Linked DNA regions of Homo sapiens: regions 1 and 2 are each linked to region 3. The links come from fine-mapping of genetic effects on gene expression. A gene starts in region 3. Each other region holds a variant in brackets. All regions are shown on one strand. Distances are between the middles of the regions.

Region 1 (4,242 bases), 23 kb before region 3:
TTCTTCAAATATCTAAGAAAGTAGAAACTGGACTAAGTAAAACATTTGTAGATTTTATGAGATAAACAAAGATGTGCAAGTTGTGCACATGAATCCTTTTGTTGGGAGGAAAAGATCACATCTATGTTTCTCAGCCCTTGCACATCCCAGAATCTGAGCTAGCTATGTTGTTTGACACTCGGCTGCTCCGTGAAGAGTAATTAACAAAACATTTTGAATACAAGTTATTATCATTTCCTGGCAATAAACAGGTCTGTTAAAACATGAGGTAAGAGGATATATACATGAACAGAAACAGAAAGATCAAGAACAACAGATATGGCAGCTAATAGGTGGATTTTTAGGTCTCCTGCTTTTTTTTTTTAAAGAACTCTTTGTAGGTGAAACGAAATATTTCTTCAAAGATAGTTTATAAATCTGAAGATTAAAGATTTCACTAGCAAAGTAAAATGTGACAGCACAAAGTTAGATAAGTTACTAAGTCAATAAATCCTTTTATTGCTCAGATACTATTTTTTTAAAAACCCACAACATCCTGCTAGCATAAACTTGTTTTCACTTGACAATAACCCTTAACCAAAGATCTTTGGTAGTGCCTAACTCATAAAAACTTTTTTTTTTTTTTTTTTTTTTTTTGCAAAATGGAGGCTTAAAAATGTAAAGAGTAGGCGTTAAGTTCCCATAGGGCTTCCTGGTTGTAGGCAGAATTTCACAGAACTTCGTATCTGCAGCATTTGAGGTACATATATGGGAAGAACTTAGGATATAATTCAGAAGAGCCAAGATCTTTATTTTGGTTCTGTAATTCTGTGCCTACTCATTTTGGAGCAAAATACATGTATTGCTGTACCCCTAACAATCCTAGCACGTAGGTGGTCCACAATCCCCATTTTGACATTCCCAACAATCCACAGCAAATGGGATGTTAATCAGATGTTTGCCGTTCTCTACACATTTCCAAGTTTTGAGTACAGTACTGGAGAGTACCATCATAAAGCCATTTATTCCAGCTCTTGGGGGTGGGGTAGAATAAAATCATTCACACTGACACCCTTGCACATTAAAGCTGGTCACTGTGTAATGGTTACAGTCATCGATGTTTATCCTTCCAGCAAGCACACATGAGGACAGGGATGACTCTGGCCTGTTTCAGTTAGTGTTTGCACTACAGAGTAGTCTCTGGTGATGTTAGACTACAAGCGTGCTTGATTCATTTTATCTAATGAGTGACAAGCACCTTTTTTCATATTGTTCTTGTAACTTTGATTTTACATAGAGAAATTCAGTAGCAAGAACTCAAATGAGTACAAAGTATTGTTTGTGCTTTATTAGGTCCTTAGAGAATTTTGAAAAGTGGAAATTATCTGAAAATAAGCTTTTATCAGAAGACTAAGTTAAAAGAATTAAGGAGAAATAGACTTCTAAGTTTTGCAGTTTCAATCATAGCTGGATTTAATGTTACATAGAGAATAATACAGGACAAAGTATGAGCAGGAGGCTTATTTATTATTTACTTTACCCAACTCAGAGGTTTCGATGCAATTCCTTTCCTTTCCCTGGGAATTCCTAATCTAGAATTAAAGGGCATTGGGATCCTCAAGGGTACTTATCTCCAGGCAAAAGTCCACTCTATTGGAGCTTAAGCCACAGATATCTCCTCCCAGTTTTAGAAGACTTTACCAAGGGAGCACACAAATCACTGCCTATCAAAAGCCAGACAAACGCCGCACCAATCCAGGTGTAGCACCGTAATTCTATTCTGATGTTAATGACCTGATGGGTCAACTTACCTCTCATTCATTTATGCACTTTACAAACATGTGAGAGCTAAGTATCTGTAGCACTGTGTATGAGGATGCATGGAGTGTGAGGTGGATGCAAGGGTAAGTAGGAAACCACCTCTGCCCTCATGGAATGTACAATCTCCTTTGTTTGGAGGGGGAAAGAAGCTGGTGAAGGGGAGAGGAGGTAAGTACATAAATCAGATATGGCACCAGTACTCTGATTTCCTTTGACATTAAAACAAATAACAAAAAACAAAGCATGTTACTCCTGGGAAACTGTAGCTTTAACTTATGCTAGGAGCCAGGGCTAAGTGGAATACAGAAGAAATTTAATTGAGGTGTTATGACCTCTTTTTTGTCTCCTGGCTATATAAGTATTATTTACTATGAGTTTCACTGGATAAGGAGAGACATTGAACATTTTATATAGGAAAATAAGCTTACAAAAGAAAGTTGGACTATGGACTGTAACTTCTAAGTTGTTAATTTTCTACAAATCTACCTTATTTAAAAGAAATGGAGTCTGGGTCGGGTGCGGTGGCTCACGCCTGTAATCCCAGCACTTTGTGAGGCTGAGGCTGTTGGATCACCTGAGTTCAGGAGTTCTAGACCAGCCTGGCCAATATGGCGAAACCCTGTCTCTACTAAAAATTGCACCACTGCACTCCAGCCTGGGTGACAAGAGCGAAACTCCATCTCAAAAACAAAAACAAAAAATGGAATCTGTATTTGGATTGTTTGTAACACAGTGCTTGAGGGGGATGAGTAGCCCATTTGACATACTGTAATTATTACGCATTGCATGCCTGTA[TCAAAACATCTCATGTAC/C]ACCGTGAATATAGACACCTATGTACCCAGAAAAAAAAATAATAAAACTACACTGAGTCATCAGGTGATCCAAGATAGTAACAATAACTGTGATGCCTTTTTCCTAATGAAACATGCCAATGTCTTATTTCTTTAAATATGTTTTTTAGGCTGGGTGTGGTGGCTCACACCTGTAATCCCAGCACTTTGGGAGGCTGAGGCAGGCAGATCACCTGAGGTCAGGAGTTTGAGACCAGCCTGGCCCACATGGTGAAACCCTGTCTCTACTAAAAATAAAAAAATTAGCTGGGCATGGTGGCGGGCGCCTGTAATCTCAGCTACTCGGGAGGCTGAGGAAGGAGAATCACTTGAATCCGGGAGGCGGAGTTTGCAGTGAGCCGAGATGGTGCCATTGCACTCCAGCCTGGGCAAAAAGCAAAACTCCATCTCAAAAAAAATATACATTTTTTAATTACCATGGACTATTCCTTGATGTTTTTTTGACCTCTGAACTTTTTATTGGCCTCTTACTCCCCACAGGGTACCCTGCTTCTGCTGGCTTAATGTCTCAGAACTTTGGTGTCACTGATCTCAGACACCACTTTGCTATCCACTATCTGGCGGGTGGTGGTCTTTTGGATGGTTTGCATGGAGTTGCTGCTGTCCAGGGCATCACCAAGATTGAGGCCCTCGCTGTCTTCCAGCAGGCGGCGGTAGGTGGCGATCTCAGCCTCCAGCTTGACCCTGATGTTCAGCAAGTCCTTGTACTCCTGGACCTTGCGCTGGCCCTCTGCCCAGTTCTGTGCCAGCTTTGACTCCAAGTACAGCAGGATTCTGTTGAGCTGCTCCATCTGCAGGGCGTAGCGGGCCTCCACCTCCCTCAGGCTGTTCTACAAGCTGGTCTTCAGATTTCTCATTGAGTCCAGGTCAATCTCCAAGCACTGGACTGTACGTCTCAGCTCCGTGTCATCTCAGCAGCTCTGACCTTGGCAGAGTGTGTGGTGACCACTGTGGTGCTCTCCTCAGTCTGCTGAGACCAGTACTTGCCTAGCTTCTCTGAGTTCTTCTGAGACAGCTCATCCTATTGGGCCCTGATGTCTGCCATGACCTTGGCGAGGACTTGAGATTTGGGGGCATCTACCTCCACGGCCAACCCAGAGTTGGCAATCTGGACTTGCAAGCCTTTTACTTCCTCTTCATGGTTCTTCTTCATGAGGAGCAGCTCCTCCTTGAGAGCGCCCATCTCTGTCTCCAGCTGCAGCAGAGTGACATTGGTGTCATCAATGACCTTGCAGAGCCCATGGATGTTGCTCTCCACAGACTGGCGCATGGCCAGCTCTTGTCTCATACTTGACTCTGAAGTCATCAGCAGCAAGACGGGCATTGTCGATCTGCAGAATGATGTGGACATTGTCCACAGTATTTGCGAAGATCTGAGCCCTCAGTTCCTTGATGGTCTTGAAGTAATGGCCCCAGTCTCTGACATGGGGTCTCTTCTCCAGATACTCCTGGATTTTGCTCTCCAGCCTCCAGTTCTCGGTCTCCAGGTTCCTCACTCTGTCCAGGTAGTCCAGGTGGTCGTTCAGGCTTTGCATGGTCTCCTTCTCATTCTGGATGCCCCCCATTTCTGCCAGACCCCCAGCCATCTCTG
Region 2 (4,242 bases), 37 kb after region 3:
AGAGAACTGGCGATGAGGACGGCCAAAATGAGAGGTCCAAAGAGGCCCCACAGCATAGCTAAGGGCTGTCCTAGGGGTCTCCTCCATTCCAGCCTCTGCCCTGGCCATAGCTCCATAGCTCATCACTTTGGGATGTAGCCTTGTGGTTCCATCTGTCTTTTTTTTTTTTTTTTTTTGAGACAAAGTCTCACTTTGTTGCCCAGGCTGGAGTGCAATGGTGCAATCTTGGCTCGCTGCAACCTCTGCCTCCCAGGTTCAAGCGATTCTCCCACCTCAGTCTCCTGAGTAGCTGGGATTACAGGCGCCCAAGACCACACCAAGACCACACCCAGCTAAATTTTTTTTTTGTATTTCTGTTAGATACGGGGTTTCACCATGTTGGTCAGGCTGGTCTTGAACTCCTGACCTTCAAGTGATCTGCTTACCTCGGCCTCCCAAAGTACTGGGATTATAGGCATGAGCCACCGCACCCGGCCATATCTTGAACTTTCTCTATCAATTAGGAAGTGGGCTTAGGTTTTTCATGCCTGTGACCCACTTTCAAATTCACTCTTATTGCCTTATTCTTTTGGCCATCTTTGGGTATCATGATGCTGTTGGAACAGAACTGCTTCCTGCGCCATCGTGCTGGTTGAATTACTCATGAGATAAAGCTCTTTTGTGGTGCATTCACTTCAGACCCTCATGCATGTAACTGCAGGTTATATCCATGCCATGTTACAGGACCCTCTCAGCTCCATGTTCTAGCCAACACATATTTTGTAATGGTATGTCGAAGAAATGCATTTTACATATTGATCACTAATTGCTTGCTATGGTTTGCAGGTGAGCCACACACCACTGTGTCAAAGTACACTGACTCAGAACTACAGTGCTACACAAGACACACAGATGGGCATGCACTTGCACACTTACATGCAAACACACTCTGTTGAGGGGACCAGTTCAGATTCAGATTTAGGTTTTCATCTGTTTTATATTAAACCTGTAATCCTTCCCATAAGCAAAGCTGGACTTTCCAGCAACTCTCGTTCTTTCTCTGGGCTTCAGGTTTCTTATCTAAAACAAGGAGACTGAATCTCTGGGGTTTTTCTACCTTCCATGGTTATGATTTAGGGTGGGAAAGTGATCTCTCTAATGAGGCTGAGCTCCTTAAGGTTAGAGTTGCTAAATCATTTGTAAAGGGTTTCCCCTTCTGTAACACTGAACAGGGTTATCCTCTGCCATTGGGCATGGGAGGGAGGGAGGATAGTGTTTTCAAGCTACCTCCTACTTTCCAGAATTAAAAGAAAAGTCCCTTTCTTGGTTGAGACTTGCTAATCTAGCTCTTTGTAGGAAATGCTAAGTTAGGTAGCCACTGATTTACTGAGTGCCAGTACTTTGACCCCGTGCACTAACATTATTTTGCACTACATGTGCCTCCTGGACTTTCTTTGATAACTTAAAAAAAATCAGCTTTTATTTTATACTCGGGGATACACATGCAGATTTGTTACATGGATATATGCATGATGCTGAGGTTTGCGGTACCACTGATCTCATCACTCAGGTAGTAAGCACGGTACCCAATAGGAAACTTTTTAGCCCTGGCCCCCACCCCCCGCCCCCCTAGTAGTCCCCAATGTGTGTTGTTGCCATTGGGTAATGTTTGGATAACTTTGGCTTGTTTTTCTAGATTGCATCAGAGAAATGGGAATCCCCCCAGCATATCCCCATCCCCATTCTTCATTCTCTTTGTCTCAAGATAGGCTGGGATGCTGGAAGAAAGCCCCCTTTTGCAGCAGAGCATCTGGGATCCATTTAGGGCCCATAGTGCACTGGCAGAAGAAAGTGACCTAGCATGCTGGCCACAACTGCATCTGTTCCCTGTGCAGGTATCAGAGGGATCACGGCCCCTCCGGTAATTGCTGGAGACAGGGTCAACAGGGCTGAAGCTTCCTTCTCCTTGGGCTCCCTCCCCGACCCCACCACATTCCCTCTTGGGAAAGGCAAGTTGCCAATCCTGTGACACCCCATCTGTCTGACTTACTGCAGCTCCTCCTCCCTCTCCACTCCCACTCTGCCACCCCCATCCCGAGGGC[A/T]TGGGCTCAATCAATCTCTCCCGGCACCAGGGAGAGACTGAAGTCAGACAGTGGAACTAATGGCTTAGCTCCCCAGGCACCTGGACAACATCCAGGGCTCTGGACACATTCCATGGCGGGGCCATCCATCTCCTTTAGGGGTGCCTTTGCTAACCCAAACATCTGAGCAAGAAGATCCATCTTACCCTACTCCAGGGATATGGGCTAGAGGGAGCATTACATCTGCTATGCTGGGTAAGAGCCAGCTCAGAGCCAATCACTGCGGGAAGACCTGGGCCAGGTAGGCAGGAATAGAGAGTAGAGAGGATGTGAAGGGTCTGATATTCATGGAAACCTGCTGGGGGTTACCTAAGACACACGGACGCCTCACTCCCATGTTACTAAACAAAACATTATAAGGCATATTAAAAGGCAGAAAACACATTTGAAGAGATGGAGCAAGCATCAGAACCGGATTCAGACATGGCAGGGATGTTGGAATTATCAGACTGGGAATTTAAAACAGCTATGATTCATATGCATAAAGGCTCTAATGGATAAAGTAGATAGCATTCAACAAAAGATGGGAAATGAAAGCAGAGAAATGGAAATTCTAAGAAAGAACCATAAGAAATGCTAGAAATCAGAAGCACTATAATCCCAGCATTTTGGGAGGCCGAGGCAGGAGGACTGCTTGAGGCTAGGTGTTCAAGATGAGCCTGAGCATATAGTGAGACCCTGTCTCTACAAAAAGTTAAAAAAAAAAAAAAAGCCAGATGTGGTGGTGTGTTTCTGTAGTCCTAGCTACTTGAGAGGCTGAGGTGGGAGGACTGCTTGAACCCAGGAGGTCGAGGCTGTAATGAGCTATGATTGTGACACTCCACTCCAGCCTTAGCAACAGAGCAAGACACTGTCTCTAAAATCAAAACAAAAAAACACTCTAAGAGAAATGAAGAATGCCTTTGGTGGGCACATTAGTAGACTGGACACGGCTAAGGAAAGAATCTCTGAGCTTGAGGATATCTTTATATAAACCTCTTCAATTGAAAAGCAAAGAGAAGGAAATAGAACAAAGTATTCAAGAACTGTGGGACAACTACAAGAAGCATAACATATGTATAATGGGATACCAAAAGTAGAAGAGAAGAAGATGTCAGGGGTTTGAGACCAGCCTGGCCAACATGGTGAAACCCCATTTCTACTAAAAATGCAAAAATTAGCCGGATGTGGTGGTGGGCGCCTGTAATCCCAGCTACTTGGGAGGCTGAGGCAGGAGAATCGTTTGAACCTGGGAGATGGAGGTTGCAGTGAGCCGATATCGCGCCACTGCACTCCAGCCTGGGTGACAAAGCAAGCCTCTCAAAAAAAAAAAAAATGTTAAAAGATGTTTTTTAGAGAGCAAGACAATGATACAGGTCGGAAACTGGAATCAATACATTGATATTTTGGTCAATGAGAGACCTCATGTAAGATGGTGGTCCTGTAAGATTTTAATGGAGCCAAAAAACTCCTATTGCTTGTGATGTGGTAGCTGTCATAGTGTTGTAGTGCAATGTATTACCTTTTCTATGTTTGGATATGTTTGTTTATTTATTTATTTTTTTGAGATGGAGTCTTGCTCTGTCGCCCAGGCAAGATCTTGGCCTAGTGGCATGATCTTGGCTCCACTGCAACCTCCTGGGTTCATGTGATTCTCCTGCATCAGCCTCCCGTGTAGCTGGAATTACAGGTGCCTGCCACCACACCCAGCTAATTTTTGTATTTTTAGTAAAGACGAGTTTTCACCATGTTGGCCAGGCTGATCTCAAACTCCTGACCTCAAGTGATCTGCCTGCATTGGCCTCCCAAAGTGCTGGGATTACAGGCGTGAGCCACCTCGCCCAACCTCTATGTTTAGATATGTTTAGATTCACAAATACCATTGTGTTCCAGTTGCCTACAGAATTCAGTAATGTAACATGCCGTACAGGTTTGTAGCCTAGGAGCAATATGCCATGCTCTGTAGCCTAGATGTGTAGTAGGACATTCCATCTAGATTTGTACAAGTACACTCGATGATATTCACACAATGACGAAATCATCAAACAGTGCATATCTCAGAATGCATCCCTATTGTTAAGCAATGCATAACTGTATTTGAAGCAATAATAACTGATAATTTCTCCATATTAATGTCAGATCC
Region 3 (4,242 bases):
ATGCCTGACTAATTTTTGTATTTTTAGTAGAGATGGGGTTTCACCATGTTGGCCAAGCTGGTCTTGAATTCCCGACCTCAAGTGATGCACCCGCCACGGCCTCCCAGAGTGCTGGGATTACAGGCGTGAGCCACCGGGCCCAGCCAGATTCCATGTCAATCTTAACATGTAAAACACATCAATTGTGATGTTAAATTATTTTAAAACAACATTCAGTAGCTCTACCCAACTGGCCACTTGCTGAATTTCTACCTCTTCAAACCACTGTAGATAGTTCCACCTATTGTCACGCTCAGTTAACTCATAACATAGTTGACAACATACTGCAGCATTTAAATGGCATTTCAGAAACAAGTCACCTCACCATCTTTTAAAGGCATATTTGATCCATTTGCAATTCAAGAAACATATTTGGGCCATGAAGCTGCCCATGGTTATGTCAAACTGAAGGAAACTATAATGGATCATTGTTGATTTCCCAACCATGGAAATCGGGCAGTGCAACCCACCTCACTGCAAACTGACTGTAAATAACTGCTACACATTTCTCTACACAGACTCATCCACACCCACTTATCCCATGACCAGCATCTCTCAGTCCCACACCCAAGGAATGCCTAATCACCTCTCAGGCCCTCGTCCTCCCTGTCACAGAGGAGAGAGCCACAAAACCTGCTTCCAGCTAACCAGAAATTGATCCCTGAACGGGAAACACAATCTACATAACATGGGTCAAGACCAAAAGAATCTTTGGTTGAATGTACATATGTGGGCACACAAAAACACAGGCAGGCACGCACACACTCCATTACCTCTACAACAAGATACAATGATTTTTTTTTTTTTTTTAAAGTTTTGCTAGGTCTGAAGGGGAAGCAAATCCCATTCTTCCATTTTTGCCTGCAATGTTGCCCAAAGGACCTATATCCTGATGACCATTTTGATATGCAAGACAAAACAGGTGGCTCCCAGTGAATGTGACAAGTTTAAGGCCTTGTTCTGAGACATTTTCCTGTCCAGGCCTATCTAACGCCCGACGTCTTTAAGGTTCCAAGAAAGCCTGAACGCACCGCCTGGCCATGCACCTAATAAACCCTTTCAGCCAAACAGTGCGGCCAGCACAGAGGCAGCAAACACCAGTCACGAGAATGATGATGATTTATCTTGCGCGGAGAGGTAGGAGGATATAGTTTACAACCTGGTGACTGAGACGACCTGGAGCCTCAGGAATTGGCTCCTCATCGCTGCCGACAATAACCCGGGGTGGGGATTTGGGGGAGTGCAGCAGGGGAACACTGCTGGATCCAGATTCCCGGCACCGGGCAACAAAGTTCCATAAGGTCGTCAACCCCGGCGATCGGCCTATATTATTCTTCCTGCTCCAAACACCTGTCTTGCTTAGTGGCTCTCTTCTTACACGTTTGGCCAAGGCCCCTTCTGTGCCTGGACCTCCCCAGAACTGCGGGACCCTCAAAGGCCCGGTTGTCGCCCACACCCTTCCCGTCCCCGGTGAGTCTCTCTCCCTCGCCAGAGCAGGCGTGGGGAGCCAGGTTGCGTACCCGGTTCTCCAGCTCCGCAGGGAACTTGGTCTGGAACTGGCAGCGTGTGCCACTGCTGTAGTCTCGCTGAATGAACACCTTTCCGGACACCGGCGCCTGCTGCGGCCTCATGGCGAGGACAGGACACCCCGCGCTGCGGGGTCGGGGGAACACCAACCGCGAGTCAGAGCCCCGGCCTGGACCCGGGACTCTGACCCGCCAGCCCCTCGCCCCCACCCGCCGCCGAAAACAGCCCAAGGCCTCCTCTGCCCCGCTCCCCTTCACCCATGCTGTCACCGCGGGCCTTAGCTGCCGCCTGGCCCAGGCCCCGCGCCCCCCACAACCCGGTTCGGCCCGGGAAACACAAACCCGCCTCCTCTGCCCTCCAGCTGCTGTCGCACCGCCTTCGCCGTCACTTACGTCCTGCCGCAAAAAGCCTCTTCCCCGCCCCTCAGCTCGGCCTCCTACCTCAGGTCTGGGACCCACCCTCTCCTCCGGCCGTAAAGCCACCCTGCCGAAGCTGCGCGCTGTGGGGCTGGGCCGAGGAAGGGAAATGATGTGGGCGGGGCCAGGGCCGACCCCGCCTTCCGCCCGCGCGGGGATTGTTTCCGGAAGGAGAGAGGCGGGGCGAGCTGTGGGGCTGCGGCCGGGGCGAGCTGTGGGGCTGCGGCCGGCGCGAGCGCGCGGGGGTGTGAGGGGCGGAGTTTCCCGGCTGTGTCACTTCCCTAGTGATTGTGGCAGGTGGTTCCCGATCACTGATTGTGAGGGGTCATTTTCGTTCTTGATTGGACGTCGCAGCTTACGTGTGGGTTATGCCACCCAACTCATACACAAAACAAAAAACAAAACATAAAGAAAAAACAACACCCCCTCCCCAAACCCTCAAACACAAACTGCTCATTGTGTTCAGAAGTAGAAAGCAGGCTCCAAGGATGGATCCATTTGGTCCCTAGACTCTTGAGAAAGGGTCAGGAAGTGAGGACGAAGAACCTGCCTGGGCCCCAGCGTTGGGCGCCCCTGCCCCGACTCTTCTTTGGGGGCGGCGTTCCTCTCACCCCCCATTTCCACCCAGCTCCCATCCACATCCCTCAGGTGACCAAGGGGACAAGTGGTTCCGCCCTCGTTGCCCACTGGCCCTTACTTGACTCAGCATTTCTTTGCAAGGCAGCCAAAGAAACCCCACCTTACCCTTGTCTCCTGCTAATACAACCTGTTAGTACCACTGTCTTTTATATATTTAATATAGTTTAAATATCCTGCCTTTTAAATATGAAAAATTCTCTTACTGTATTTTAAAAACAGCTTTTTCGAGATATAAATGGCATACAATAAACCACACATTTAAAGCAGTGGATTTGATAACTTTGGACATATGAATACACCCATAAACCACTGTCACAATCAAGATAGTAAAGCTCCATTGCCCTGAAAAGGTTCCTCCAGCTCCTGTGTAATCTCTCCCTCCTGCCTCTCCCAGACCCCATTTCCCAGGCACTGATCCACCTTCTGTCACTCAACATTAGTTTCATTTCCTTGAATTTTATATAAATTGAATCATATAGTGTGTACCCCCTTTTTTTGCCTGGCTTCTTTCACATAGACTATTTTGAAGTCCATCTGTTGTTGTGTTATCAATAATTCATTTATTTTTGATGCTGGATAGCTATTCCATTGTATGGCCATCCCACAGTTTGTTTATCCATTCATCTGTTGATGGACATTTGGATTGCTTCCAGTTTTGGGATGTTACAAATAAAGCTGCTATGGACATTCATTTGCAAGTCTTTGCATAGGTGTGTAGACCTTAATGCTTTCATTTCTCTTGGGTACATACCTAGGAGTAGAATGGCTAGATTGTACGGTAAAAACACGTTTAACTTTTTGGCAGACTGACAAACTGTTTTCCAAAGTGGTGACACCATTTTGCATTCCCACCAGAGTTCCAGTTGCTCCACATCTTTGCCAAGACTTGGGTAGTAATATCTTCTGCAGCTATAATTTTCATTTTTCCATGACTAATTATTTTGAACATATTTTCCTGTACTTATTTGCCATCCATGTATCTTCTCTGGTGAAGTGTCTATTTAAAACTTTTGCCCATTTTTTTGTTTGTATTTTATTTTCCTGTTGTTGAGGGGTTTTTTGTTTTATTTTGTTTTGATTTACATCTTTATTGGCTGGGCTTAAGGTCAGTTTTAAATTTTTAAGGCACTTTAATTCTTGGATTTTTGTATGTTTAAAGATGTTTTCCTGAGGCCTTTATACTTGCGTGAGAACTTGGCCGGGCTGTTTTTGAGTTTTGAGTTCTTTATACATTCTGGAGAAAAATCCTTTATCAGATATGTGATTTGCATGCATTTTTCACAGTCTGTGATTTGTCTTTTTACTCTCTTAACACGTTAGGGGTTTGAGGGGATTAGGGTGTGGACCTCTTGGGGAGGGCATTTCTGCCTCCCATAGGTATAGAGTGAAACTCTTCCCTCCCCCCGTATGATTATGCAGTTGTTATTCAGTTGTTTACGTACCATTTGTTGAAAAGACTCTCATTTCTTCACTGAATTGCCTTTGTATCTCTGTTGAAAATCAGTGGGGGCCGGGCGCGGTGGCTCACGCCTGTAATCCCAGCACTTTGAGAGGCCGAGGCGGGCGGATCACGAGGTCAGGAGATCGAGATCATTCTGGCTAACACGGTGAAACCCCGTGT

What was found. PIP is the estimated chance that this variant, and not a neighbour inherited with it, causes the effect.
Region 1: its variant is the best candidate, but not a certain one, in a credible set for the expression of GOLGA7 in whole blood (INTERVAL, PIP 0.70).
Region 2: its variant is the best candidate, but not a certain one, in a credible set for the expression of GOLGA7 in lung (TOPMed, PIP 0.78).

What each region holds. Positions count from the first base shown.
Region 1 is chr8:41,511,435-41,515,676 of GRCh38, reverse strand. It overlaps the pseudogene KRT18P37. Among named protein-coding and RNA genes, the nearest start is that of GINS4, 16 kb to the left of the region's middle. The variant TCAAAACATCTCATGTAC/C (reference allele first, on the strand shown) is at 2,596.
Region 2 is chr8:41,450,794-41,455,035 of GRCh38, reverse strand. No RefSeq gene overlaps it. Among named protein-coding and RNA genes, the nearest start is that of SNORD65B, 26 kb to the right of the region's middle. The variant A/T (reference allele first, on the strand shown) is at 2,082.
Region 3 is chr8:41,488,283-41,492,524 of GRCh38, reverse strand. GOLGA7 (golgin A7) reads right to left here and starts at 1,943. Exons shown (of 5, transcript NM_001002296.2): 1 at 1,560-1,943. The coding sequence starts at 1,670. RefSeq lists enhancers at 1,313-1,422, 1,473-1,582, 1,873-2,002 and a silencer at 2,053-2,312.